2 linked regions of the Homo sapiens genome follow. The protein of the gene in region 2 interacts with the protein of the main gene of each other region in a pairwise test. Each region holds a gene or a part of one and is shown on either strand. Other genes may lie near its edges.

Region 1 (7,025 bases), on a different chromosome or scaffold from region 2:
CACAGTGCTGGGATTACAGGTGTGAGCCACCACGCCTGGCCAGGAATACTTTTTTTTTTTGAGACAGAGTCTAACTCTGTCACCCAGGCTGGAGTGCAGTGGCACAATCTCAGCTCACTGCATCCTCCGCCTCCTGGGTTCACACCATTCTCCTGCCTCAGCCTTCAGAGTAGCTGGGATTACAGGTGCCTGCCACCACGCCCAGCTAATTTTTGTTTTTTTGTTTTTGAGATGGAGTCTTGCTCTGTTGCCCAGGCTGGAGTGTAGTGGCATGATCTCAGCTCACCACAACCTCTGCCTCCTGGGTTCAAGCGATTCTCCTGCCTCAGCCTCCCGAGTAGGTGGGATTACAGGCGTGCGCCACCACACCTGGCTAATTTTTGAGGAATACATTTTTTAAGCCATCTGGTCTGTGGTAGTTCATGACAGTGGCCTGAGCAACCTCAGCCCCACCTGAGGTGGCCCCAGGGAGAGCACCTGGCAGTCTTTGCCCTTTGCTGCCCCCAGCACTAGGCTACCATCATGACGTTTCTGGGTTTCTGACATTTGCCAGTTTGCCCACAAGATGGCAGGCACCGCCCAGCTGTTGGGGTTGAAGCAGCTCATAGGCCTTGAGTTGCTGACGGCCCAGTGCGGTCAGATCACTGGCTACAGGGACAGAAGGGAGGAGTTACTACCCCCAAGGTTTCTGGCTACAGGGCCCCCATCCTGTCACCCGCCTTCCCAAACAGTACCCTGATTCCTCAACCATGGCCACATCTTAAGCCACCTGGGGCCAGTGCTGGGGCCATCCTAGGGCCAGGTGACCTTGGTGGATGTGGCCTCCTGGCTTTGGTGGTTCCTGGGCTCCCAGGTGATCGTAGTGAGCCCTTGGGGTTGAAGAGCAATGCTCTCCCACCCCGGGGACACACATGCGTCCTGATGGTAGGATCGTCCCTGGAAGTCGAGGAAAACCACAACGGTTCCAGAGCCTCACGTCAGGGTCACGGTCTGCACATTTGTTGTTGTTATGCTTCCCGGCACTCTTGTCTCTCCAGTGCACTCTGCAGCCTCTGAGCACTTCCGCACGCACAGTCTCCTGGGCACCTGCATTTCACACAGGGGCGGCTGAGGCCACCCTGGTGCCCCCGATGGCGCCCCACTGTGTCCTCACTTTGAAAGCCCAACAGCCAGCTTTTGTCTCTTTTTTTTCCCTAAAGATAGACAGGGTCTCACTCTGTCACCCAGGCCAGAGTGCAGTGCAGTGGCATGATCATAGTCCACTGTAGCCTCGACCTCCCAGGCTCAAGCGATCCTCCTTCATGAACCTCCTGAGTCGCTGGGACTACAGGTGCATGCTACCACACCTGGCTAATATTTATAATTTTTTTATGGACACAGGGTCTCAGACCGGGCACGGTGGCTCATGCCTGTAATCCCAGCACTTTGGGAGGCCGAGGCGGCTGGTTCACAAGGTCAGGAGTTCAAGACCAGCCTGGCCAATATGGTGAAACCCCATCTCTACTAAAAATACATATAGTCGCGGCTACTCGGGAGACTGAGGCAGAAAAATCTCTTGAACCCAGGCGGCAGAGGTTGTAGTGAGCCGAGATACACGCCACTGCACTCCAACCTGGGTGACAGAGCAAGACTCCATCAAAAAAAAAAAAAAAAAAAAGACTATGCTTTTTGCTATGTTGCCTATGCTGGTCTCAAACTCCTGGGCTCAAGCAGTGCTCCTGCTTTGGCCTCCCAAAGCACTGGGTTTACAGGTGTGAGCCACCACACCTGGCCTGTCTTTTTTAACTGAGGGTGGCATGTGGCCCTGGGCTAGTCACCTAACTGAAGTCCACCTCAGAAGGTTGATTGAGAGTTACTTATTTATTTTTTATTGAGATGGAGTCTTGCTCTGTCACCTAGGCTGGAGTGCAATGGCGTGATCTCGGCTTACTACAGCCTCTATCTCCCGGGTTCAAGTGATTCTCTTGCCTCAGCCTCCTGAGTAGCTGGGATTATAGGCGCCCGCCACCACACCTGGCTAATTTTTGTATTTTTAAGTAGAGGCGGGGTTTCACCATGTTGGCCAGGCTGGTCTGGAACTCCTGACCTCTAATGATCCACCCACTTCGGCCTCCCAAAGTGCTGGGATTACAGGCATGAGCTACCATGCCCGGCCTATAATATGTTTCTTTGCATACTTGAAAAGGTACATATTTCACCTGTCCATCCCATTTGCAGGTGGGGCTCGATTTCTGCAGCCACCACCCTCCGCATGCCTTTGACATTCTTCTAGGAGTTATTTATTTAGATGGCATCTTGTTCCAAATCATAGCCAGATACCCACTCTGGCTACCAGGGCCTGAGCAGAAGCTGCTGGGTCCTCTTGGCAATGGCAGCCTGAGTCAGGCTGGGGCCAGGTCTGCGGCGGCCTGGGATGAGGACACGTTTGACATCCACGCTCCTCCCTCAGGCTGGGGAGAAGGAAGAGATGTGGCTTGGAATCTGTGGTTCTCGGCTTCAGAGGACAGGGCAGAGTGACTCCCCCTGGTTTGGGCACTGGGTCCTTTGACCCTGTGCCTTGACAGCTGGCAGGCCCTCTTGCTGACAGCCTTCTCAGTCCCCTCTGTTTAGAGGTTGTTGGAGTGGCGATGCCAAGGTGGCTGGGCCCCTTCCCAACTGTACTTTCCTCTCGAAGCCCCCAGGGGCCTGGGCGAGCACCCTCAGGCCATGGGCTGAGCTGCACTGTGCCCACCTGCCATGGGCACCCTGGGAAGTCAGCCAGCCTCCGGGGGCAGCATGCAAAGCTGTGTTCTGGAGAGCGGTCCCAGCCTCCCTCCCTGGCCTGGGCTCAGGGGCAGCTTCATTATCATCCCAAAATGGATGTTGCCACAGGTTACCTCCCTCTTGCTCCTCAGTTCTGTGCAATGGCTGGGCTGTGGGGGTGTGGCCCAAGTACAGAGCCATTCCCAGGGTCTCCCCTGGCCAGGGCTGGGCACAGATGTCACCACACTGGGGCAGCCAAACTGAGCTCAAAATGTCTTGAGACAAAAGCAGAACAGAATCAAGCCACAGTGGCCCCATGTCCAGAGGTTAGAGGTGCGGGTGCCACCCTGGCTTCTTAAGTGTGACTGGGGCAGACACTGAACTTGGGAGCAAGCCTCCTTCCTGGGGTGGTGTCAGCGCGGGATGAGATCAGGCACCCCCCGTGTAGGGTACCCCCAGCAGAGGCCACTCGGGCTACGGAGGATCAGGGCTGGGACTCAGACCTCCAACCCTGCCGGAGAAGCCACCTGTCCCCAGTGTACAGGGGCCTGTCTGTCATGCTCACCCTGTGTGGGCTGCGCTGGGCCTCCCACTGTGCGTCCTGACTCACATTGGTTCCCACAGCTATCAAGCCCAGAGAGAGACGTGGAGAGGGACGTCTTCCTGTATAGAGCGTACCTGGCGCAGGTGAGTGCGGGCCTTGGCCGGGGGCAAGAGTGATGAACAGAGTAGAGGGTGGGGCTGGGGACAGGAAGGCACCACAGAGTGGGTGGCGGGGACAGTAAACAAAGCAGGGACCCAGGCCTGCAGTGTTCAGTGACTGTGAACAGCCAGCGCAGCCAGCATGTGAAGGTGGCTGTGTCACGGAGGCCTGAGACTGCCAGGCCAGGGGGCCTGGGTCACAGCTTCTTGATTTTTTTTTTTTTTTTTTTGAGACGGAGTCTCACTCTGTCGTACTCGATCTCAGCTCACTGCAACCTCCGTCTCCTGGGTTCAAGTGATTCTCCTGTCTCAGCCTCCCAAGTAGCTGGGACTACAGGCGTGCGCCACCACGCCTGGCTAATTTTTATATTTTTAATAAACACGTGGTTTCACCACATTAGCCAGGGTGGTCTTGAACTCCTGACTTCATGATCCACCTGCCTCAGCCTCCCAAAGTGCTGAGATTACAGGCGTGAGCCAACGCGCCCAGCCGATTTTTTTTTTTTTCCTAAAATAATTGGTAGGAGCCAGGCACAGTGGCTCACACCTGTAATCTTTGGGAGGCTGAGGTGGGAGGATCACTTGAAGCCAGGAGTTCAAGACCAGCCTGGGCAACATAGTGAGACCCCCGTCTCTACAAAAAAAAATTAAAAAATAAGACAGTCATGGTGGCATGTGCCTGGAGTCCCAGCTAATTGGGAGGCTGTGGCAGGAGGATCAGTTGAGCCCAGGAGGTCAAGATTACAGTGAGCCGTGATCACGCCATTGCACTCCAGCCTGGACAACATAGCAAGACCTTGTCTCTAAAAAAATAAGAATGGGGGCTGGGCCCGGTGGTTCACGCCTGTAATCCCAGCACTTTGGGAGGCCAAGGCGGGCAGATCACCTGAGGTCAGGAGTTCGAGACCAGCCTCAACATGGAGAAACCCTGTCTCTACTAAAAATACAGAATTAGCCAGGTGTGGTGGTGCATGCCTGTAATCCCAGCTACTTGGGAGGCTGAGGCAGGAGAATTACTTGAACCTGGGAGGCAGAGGTTTCGGTGAGCTGAGGTCACAGCATTACACTCCAGCCTGGGCACCAAGAGCGAAACTCCATCTCAAAAAAAAAAAAAAAAGGCCGGGCGTGGTGGCTCACACCTGTAATCCCAGCATTTTGGGAGGCCAAGGTGGGTGGATCACAAGGTCAGGAGATTGAGACCATCCTGGCTAACACAGTGAAACCCCGTCTCTACTAAAAATACAAAAAAATTAGCCGGGCGTGGTGGCGGGCGCCTGTAGTCTCAGCTACTCGGGAGGCTGAGGCAGGAGAATGGTGTGAACCTGGGAGGTGGAGCTTGCAGTGAGCCGAGATCACGCCACTGCACTCCAGCCTGGGCGACAGAGCGAGACTCCGTCTCGAAAAAAAAAAAAATGGGGAAGGAACCATCTAGGAGGGAACACAATGAGGGACGGGCCCCCAGCTGCAGATGTGACAGTGGTATCAGTCTGGGCATCCTCAGAGGGCCAGTAGGTGGGCAGGGCTGGCTGGGGGCATGTCCTGCTTTATAGAAGCGCATGTCACAACCCCCATAACTGCTGCTGCCCTGCCCCCAGGTGACACGCCCTTCACCTCACCACCAGAGGTGGACAGCTGCCAGGGGATAGACAGTAACCTACCAGGGTCCCTAGCTCAAGGCATGGGCAGTGTGGCCCTGCAGATGAGGGCACACCTGGCTGCTCACGACAGGTGACGCCATGCCACCCTCCACAGTGTACTGCAGTGGAGGTGGCCCATGCTGGGCTGAGGGGTCCCTGGTGGGGCAGGGACTTCCTGTCTGGGGCTCTCCCTGCCAAGCTGAAGACATGGAAATCCTCTGGGGTGGACGGGTGCAGCTGACGCCTCGTCCCTACTGCAGAGGAAGTTCGGTGTGGTCCTGGATGAGATCAAGCCCTCCTCGGCCCCTGAGCTCCAGGCCGTGCGCATGTTTGCTGACTACCTCGCCCACGAGAGTCGGAGGTGAGGCCCCAGAGAATGGGTTGGCCTGAGGCGCGGGGCCATCTTCAAGGCCTGTTGGTTATGAACCTGGGTGGGTGGGGGCATGGCGTGCAGCGCACAGCATCCCTCAGATTAGGCGCCTCTCCCCTCTGCTCCCCTGCTGCTTTGTGCCTCAGTTTCCCTCACCTGCACAGCAGTGGGGGGCTGGTGATGGATCCTGCTTCAAAGGGGAGGGTCAGAGACAGTGCTGTGTGTGCACACGCCCTCATGGACCACAAGGCACTCTCTGAACCTAGAACTGAAAATATCAATTACCGAGCAGCCCTCTGCAACACCCAGAGCCCCAAGACAGCCCAGGGCGCAGCGGGGGCAGGGCCCTCCCATCAGTTTTCTTATTTATTTATTTAGAGATGGAGTCTCACTCTGTCACCAGGCTGGAGTTGCAGTGGTGAGATCTCGGCTCACTGCAACCTCTGCCTCCTGGGTTCAAGTGATTCTTGTGCCTCAGCCTCCTGAGTAGCTACGACTATAGCTGCGTGCCACCACGTCCAGCTAATTTTTGTATTTTAGCAGAGACTGGGTTTCACCGTGTTGCCCAGGGTGGTCTCGAACTCCTGAGCTCAGGCGGTCTGCCCACCTCAGCCTCCCAAATCCTATCAGTTTTCTAGTCCCAGCTAGTTGGGGACTGCAACCTGCCAGTATCTCCCCTGGAGCCCAGTGGGAGGGTGGGTGAGGCCACGCCTGTCCTGCCCCTGAGCCACAGGCCAGCGTTGGTCAAACGCCCATGGGCGGCAGCCAAGGGGAGAGGGGGCTGGGCTGTGGGGACCCAGGAACCTTGCCCCCTCCTGCTGTGGGGTCGGAGTGAGGGTCTGGCATGGGGAGACTGCTGTGATCCTGCTCTTCCTTGGCCCACGGAGGCAGTGTCCCAACTACCGCCTCCCTTCACTCAAAGAAACCTGGGGTTCCTGGGAGCTGACTCCTGTGCAGAGGCAGCATGGTGGGGTGAATGGTGTCCCCCAAAAGGTACGTCCATATCCTATCCCACATGCTTGTGAATATGATATCATTTGGAAAAAGGGTCTTTGCCGATCAGATTAAGAGATAAGGAGATGAAGACATGCTGGATTTAGGGTGGGCCCCAAAGCCAAGGACTTGTGTCCTTTTAAGAGATAAAAGGAGGGCTGGGTGCAGTGGCTCATACTTGTAATCCCAGCACTTTGGGAGGACGAGGTGGGCAGATCACCTGAGGTCAGGAGTTTTCAAGACCAGCCTGGCCAACGTGGTGAAACCCCATTTCTATTAAAAATACAGAATTAACAGGATGTGATGTCTGTGATTCCAGCTACTTGGGAGGCTGAGGCAGGAGAATCGCTTGAACCTGGCAGGCAGAGGTTGCAGTGAGCCAAGATCGCACTAGTGCACTCCAGCCTGGGTGACAGCGGGAGACTGTCTTAAAAAAAAAAAAAAAAAAAGGAAAGAGGCCCACAGAGTTAAGCCCATGTGACAACAGACTGGAGTGACATGTCTGCTAGCCAAGGAGCACCACGAGTGGCCAGCAGCCACCAGAGCTGGGAGAGAGGCCTGGGACGGCCTTGCCCTCCAGC
Region 2 (7,025 bases):
CGTGTGCAGTTTAACAACACAATATGTGCAGGCATGAGTGGCTAATCCTATGTGAAAGTCAGCAGCTCTTTGGGTTAAGGGGATGGGAAAAAAAACTGAACTTCTGAAGCCTCCGAGTCAGGCTGCCTGGGCACATGTCCTAGTTCTGGCACTTAACACCTGTGTGACTTTGGGCAAGTTACCTCACCTTTACCTCAGTTTATCCTTTGTAAAATGGAGATAATATTATTTCCCTGAGGATTAAAGGAGTTAAAAAAGATTATGTACTCAGAACAGTGCCTGGCCCAGAGTAGCCACAATAAAAGGTTGAGGTTTTCAATGTTGCTTTTGTTTTTTTCCTAGGTACTTAATACTGGTTCTGTCATGTAATATTCATAACTATTCTTTGAGAGAGATAGTACAGTGGTCCCCAATTACCCGTGGTTTTCTTTTCCAGGGTTTCAGTTACCCATAGTCAACCATGGTCTGAAAATAGGTGAATATGGGGCATTTTAAGAAAGAAAGAGACCATATTCATGTAATTTTTATTACATTGTTATAATTATTCTATTGTTAATCTCTTACTGTGCCTACTTTACAAATTAAACTTTATAACAGGTATGTATGTATAAAAAACAACATAGTATATATGGGGTTCAGTACTGTCCAAGGTTCAGGCACCCACTGGGGGTCTTGGAACATATCCGTGGAGGATAAGGCAGACTATTATATTGCTCTTCTTTTCCAGATGAGAACACAGGCTCAGAAAGGTTTAGTAACGTGGCCAAGGTCACACAGCTAAATAGCAGAAGCAGGGTTTGAACTCAGGTCTTTTTGACCTTATACTAAATACCACACCCCCACCAATGGGGAGGAGGGGCAGAGAAGTTGTTAAATCTGATTTTTGTTATGACTTTTGGCCTCTGGCAAGGAAATAATTTCATATCACCCTGTATCTCACAGTTGAAGATGACAGTAATTGCCAGCCTTGAGGAACACTATGTAAATTATTTTATTATTAAAGATGATTCAATCCCACATATGTGGCATGAAAGTGGATCTAGCATGAACACTGCTAGGGTTAACATAAGCAGTTTAATTTATGCCATAAACGAAGAGATTTACTAGGTGAAAATGTGGGACTATATGGTGAGAAAGCAAGCCAAGCCACAGCCAGGGACAAGGACTTCTGGTGGCTGGGGATGAAGTGAAGCTCTAGCATAGACTGTGTGCTCGCTTCAAAATTCTGGGGAGCCCGGGGTTGCAGAGTCCAGTAACCACCTGTGGACAATCCCCTCCTTGAAGGCAGGAACCACACTACCTGGGCCTTCAGTCCCGGCACTCAGTGGACGTTTTAGTCCATGTTTGTTGATGATGTTGCTGCAAGAACTCAGCAGAAGAGGAGCTACAGGTAAAGTGAACAGAAAGGCACTGGGCTGTGTCCATGGCAGAAGTCAAGCCCTGTTACAGTTCAGCATATCCCCTGGGCCCTGCTAGATAAGAAACACACAACAAGGAAACCTTTGAAACCTTGTCCTTACTGCTTGCCCCGGAAAACCCACAGGGCCTGCCTTGGCCTCCACTGCTTTGATGCTCTGGGTTTGTGATTAGCTGTGGGGATCAGCTCCAGAGACTTCTCAGATGGAAACAGGGTTCTGGAAAGGACAGTCCGAAGTAACTCAGGTAGCCTCAAAGCCAATGGTTACAGTCTTGGAGCTGTCCAATTCCATTTGAAATCTTCTCCTGTCCCCACCTCTTAAAGGCTACAAAACAAAACAATACCCCACAAACCAGAATAAGTAGCCATGTAGTTCTAAAGCAATAGTCAGGTGTGTTTCTTTCCTTAAAAAAAAAAAAAAGCTTTCTCCTTGATATACTTCAGTGCCAAGTTTCATCAGAATCACATGATGATGGACTGAATTTGACAGTACCTCTGGTAGAAAAGCAGTTTTCAAATTTTAACCATACAGTTTTATAATACAAAGCATGATGCTGAGATTTAAAAGATTACTATTTCTAAATAGCCAAGTAAACTGTGTGAAAGCTGATGAGTTCCAAACTAGTGTTTGCTTAGTCCTTACTGCTTGCCTAAGTCATGAATTAATAGAATTCTAGAATCCCAAATTTAAAACTTTTTAAAAAGGATTTTCAGTGGATTGGGTTTTATTTCCATATTGGATAAAGTTATTATTAGCCTTCTAGCCTTTGGCCCTTTGTTAAACCATGTTGCAGAGATCACACACCTGCAATTAGGTAACAGGGTACCGCCTAAAGTGTACCTCGAGCCATGAATGTCATAAAAGTATTCTGTGGGACCCCAGTTTGATGAAGGTCCCTTTCTGCAGGACTTCTCAGAACATTTAAAAAGCCAGTGTATATAGTGAATCTCCACAGGGAGGTCGTGTCCAGAGTTTCTCAAATGGTTTTGCCCACTGAGCAGCTGCAGGACCAGCCTGGCAGGAAACACACTCTGGGAAACACAGAACAGAAGCTACATAACCGCAGTATGTCCTACAGAGCCGAAGCAACCCAGGGACATTTTAGTTAGAGAACCACAGGCGTTACAGGAAGAGAGCGATGAGGATGTACCAGGAGATCCTGGCAAACGCTGATAAAACTAATGGAGAATTAAGTGAGGGCAATCAAAAGGGGTGTCTGTGTGTAGAAATAGAGATTAAAAAAATACCAATTCTGGTCTTAGCTCTGACCCAAATTGTATAACCTTGACCTCTTGGGGTTTTCTTGTTCTCATCCCTAAAACGTAGCATTTGGTGAGAGATGATCTCAGATAATCTCTGGCTCCAGAACAGTGAGCCAGGATCAGTGGCACCTATTAGCATAGCTATCTTACTACTAATAATGTAAGACTCTGGGTTGAAAAACAGACCCGTGCAGATCTCTGGCAGAGCAGCCTGAGCAAGCGTGGAAGGCAGGGAACTTCCAAGTCAGGCCTCTATTTAGACAGCTTCCACATTTGGGAATCCGTCATGTTCTGGTGACAACCTGAAGGTCCTATTTGTAGACACATCATGCCAATGATAGATCGTTGTCATGAGTTTAGTTGAAAAAGAGCTTTTCTGTCCAAATACATCATAATCATTTAGGCTACATACATTTTTTAAAACAAGCAGAGGCATTTTTGGTGAAATGTGGCTTTGCCATTCAGAATGTGTTTGATTTCTCAACCTTTTTATTTATTTTTTAAACTTTTGTTTTGCCAAGGGTCAGTTCAGACTTAAAACATTGATTTTAACACAGCGGGAGATGAGGCTCTAAGCCTTTGGCTGACCAGCTAGTCAGAAAACAAATCCTTCCCCTTCTCTGGGCAGGCTCCATCCCATCACCTGTGAAAAAAAATGGCAGAGTGGGAGGGTGGGGATGGGAAGGGAGGCCAGAGAAGTGTGTGGATGTTCCCCAGGCCCTCTCCTGGCCCTAAACTGTGATTCTGTTCCTCTTTTTTCTTGTATCAGAGGCATTTCCATAGTGTCTTGTATCTTCTCCTATTGTAACACTTACTACATTTAAGTTATCTTTATATATATATAAAGGGGAGTTTATTAAGGAATGTTGACTCACATGATCATAAGGTGAAATCCAGTAATAGGCCTAACTTTTAGGTCCGGGGCTACATGTGCAGGTTTGTTACGGAGGTAAACTCATGTCACGGGGTTTTGATGTACAGATCATTTCATCACCTAGGTACTAAGCATAGTACCTGATCATTAGTCTTTCTGATCCTCTCCCTCCTCCCGCCCTTCCCCCTCAATTAGGCCCCAGTGTCTGTTGTTTCCCTCTTTGTGTCCATTTGTTCTCATTTAGCTCCCACTTACAAGTGAGCACATGCGGTATTTGGTTTTCTGCTCCTGCGTCAGTTTGCTAAGACTAATGGCCTCCAACTCCATCCATGTTCCTGATTGACGCAAGTGCCTGCCTAATTAGACTACCGGCTCCTCAAGGATAGGGACTGAATCTCATTTATCTTGTCATTCATCTTTGCTGCAGTAGGACTTAATGACAAAGTGGGCAGTATAGCCCTTGCTATACTATCTGATTCTTTCTGTAGCATATCTCCTCAGTTGTTGTCAGGTCAGAAATCTTTGTCGCTTACTTGCTGTATTAGTCAGGGTTCTCTAGAGGGACAAGACTAACAGGATAGATGTATATATAAAGGGGAGTTTATTAAGGAGTGTTGACTCACATGATCATAAGGTGAAATCCCATAATAGGCTGTCTGCAAGCTGAGGAACAAGGAAGTTAGTCCAAGTCCCAAAACCTCAAAAATAGGGAAGCCAACAGTGCAGCCTTCAGTCTGTGACCAAAGGCCTGAGAGCCTTCTGGCAAACCACTGGTGTAAGTCCAGGTCCAAAAACTGAAGAACTTGGAGTCTGATGTGTGAGGGCAGGAAGCATCCAGCACGGGAGAAAAATGAAGGCCAGAAGACTCAGAAAGTCTAGTCCTTCCACGTTCCTCTGCCTGCTTGTTTTGTTTTGTTTTGTTTTGAGATGGAGTCTCACTCTGTCGCCCAGGCTGGAGTGCAGTGGCGCAGTCTCGGCTCACTGCAAGCTCCGCCTCCCAGGTTCACGCCATTCTCCTGCCTCAGCCTCCCAAGTAGCTGGGACTACAGGCACCCTCCACAACGACCGGCTAATTTTTTGTATGTTTAATAGAGACGGGGCTTCACCGCCTTAGCCAGGATGGTTTCCATCTCCTGATCTCATGATCTGCCCGCCTCAGCCTCCCAAAGTGCTGGGATTACAGGCATGAGCCACCGCGCCCGGCCTCCTCTGCCTGCTTTTATCCTAGCCACGCTGGCAGCTGATTAGATGGTGCCCACCCAGATTGAGGATGGGTCTGTGTCTCCCAATTCACCGACTCAAATGTTAATCTCCTTTGGCAACACCCTCACAGACACACCCAGGAACAATACTTTGCATCCTTCCATCAAGTCGACACTCAGTATTAACCACCACACTAGCTTATTTTTAAGTCCTGCTGTAGTAAAGTTACTCCTTCCCAGGCTACAGAACATTCAAATGCAAGGGGAGTCACCCCAGTCATTTGGTTGTGGTGATAGAGATCATCTGCGGGCCCTGTGGAAATAGGTCAAGCCCCTGCTGGAACCTTCTCAAGATCTCCGCGGAGAGATTGGCAACCCCCACCAATGCTTTCTCGTGCCCTGGGAGTGACTGAGGCAACTTGGCACCCATGTGTCCACTTAGAGCACAGAGTAAGGGTCCTTGTATTTCCTATTGCTGCCTAGACCTCTCGCCAGCCATTAACGAATAAATAAACATGAGCCATTTATTTATTTGTTATATTAGCGTCAGTCTCTCCACAGTGGAGTGCATCATTGCTGCGGCCTCAACTTCTAGAATAGTGCCTGGCACTTAGTAGGCCCTCCATGGATGTTTGTTGTTGAACACATGAGGGACCAGCCAGGGGCTGGGGAGGCACATGGAAGGTTGGTTTGTTTTTTTTGTTTTGTTTTGTTTTGTTTTGTTTTTGAGACCGAGTTTCACTCACTCAGTTGCCCAGGCCAGAGTGCAGTGGCACAGTCTTGGCTTACTACAACCTCTGCCTCCCGGGTTCAAGAGATTCTCCTGCCTCAGCCTCATGAGTAGCTGGGATTACAGGCACCCGCCACCACACCCAGCTAATTTTTGTATCTTTAGTAGAGACTGGCTTTCACCGTGTTGGCCAGACTGGTCACGAACTCCTAACCTCAGGCGATCCGCCCGCCTCGGCCTCCCAAAGTGCTGGGATCACAGGTGTGAGCCACCGCACCTGACTGTGAAAGGCTTTCTAAAGCTGGCTTCCCATGGGTTGAACTGGCGAGAGGCACATGGCTCACTCTGTGCATGTCGCAGCACCAACTAGAGCCTGTTTTCTTGCTCTCAGACGGCTTCAGAATGAAATGTCTTCCTAAAGAGTGTTGATTTTTGGCCTTCTATTAAGTTTAGTGTAAGTTTATGCTGGTGATGGGGATTTGTTTTATATTCCTTGTGGGCTCACCCTGGGATGGTGGTGCTTTACTTGCCAGCCTGGGGGAGTGAGGTTCAGAGAGAGGTCTCTCAGGGTGGTGCAGGGAGTAAAGCAGGGACTTCTTTCAAATTCCGTTCTTTTTTCAGAATGGGGAATTAGACTATTGAACCCAGAACATTTGGGAGTTTTTCACACTGTATTTAAAACAATCAGTTTAGGTGGCCAGATCCCAAGGTCTAAAAGGAGTAAGGTTAAAAGGAATCCCCACCATGAGCTTCCAGCTCATCTTCTTCCTTATGCAGCTCCAGCTTTTTGGGGTAATTTATAATGAACATTACCCCTTCCATTGATATGGGCTCATTGCCTGCCAGGTGCTTTGCCAAGCACTTTATGCTCGTTGTTACCCAGGAAGACTCCCACCTTTGCCATTTGCACTTCACAGATGGGGACACTGAAGCTCCCAAAGGGAGTCACTACATGGCTCAGGACCCTTAATTTAATACCAGGAAGGATGGGAAAGGGTGATGAAAATTGTATTCGCTGGTAAAAAGTATTTTGATTCTAAGGCTAGTCTTACTTTCCTTAAAAACATTACTTTTTTTTTTTCTTTTTTGGAAACTTCCTAGACGCTAGATGTTTCTGCAAATAGAATCACAGAGCCCTACCATTTGACAGATGGAAGGGACCTTATCTCAGCCCCAGTCTCATTCTGACATGATAAAACCAAGGCCTTAAGTGTTTAAGTGACACAGAGCATGAATCTTCCTCCTAGGCCCAGCTCTGTCGAACTTTTTTTTAAGCCAAGGAAAAGAAAATCTTAAGCCTGATATATAAACAGATAATAACATAATTTCTTTGGTTAAAAAGGAGAGAGATTGGCCCTACTTATCACGTATTTAAGAAAATAACAACATGCCCTTTTGTTTTTTCTCTTCTCTCATACATCACTAATTCTGGTGGGGTCTGTCCAGAGTCCGTCAGATGGCTATGACTTTTTCAGCCACCTCCTCGTGCTGTCAGCTCCCGGTAGCCTTGCCGTCCAGTTTATAACGCCAGCAGCCAGA

What was found. Proteins that work in one complex are often made in the same cells at the same time.
Region 1: the proteins of CDC42EP3 (region 2) and COPE interact in binary tests that used the Homo sapiens proteins (3 or more experiments, as listed by UniProt).

Annotation. Positions count from the first base shown.
Region 1 is NC_000019.10:18,909,388-18,916,412, reverse strand, and holds part of COPE (coatomer subunit epsilon), read left to right. Parts: intron 1-3,366; coding exon 3,367-3,429; intron 3,430-5,341; coding exon 5,342-5,442; intron 5,443-7,025. UniProt on the Homo sapiens protein: The coatomer is a cytosolic protein complex that binds to dilysine motifs and reversibly associates with Golgi non-clathrin-coated vesicles, which further mediate biosynthetic protein transport from the ER, via the Golgi up to the trans Golgi network.
Region 2 is NC_000002.12:37,661,627-37,668,651, reverse strand, and holds part of CDC42EP3 (cdc42 effector protein 3), read left to right. Parts: intron 1-7,025.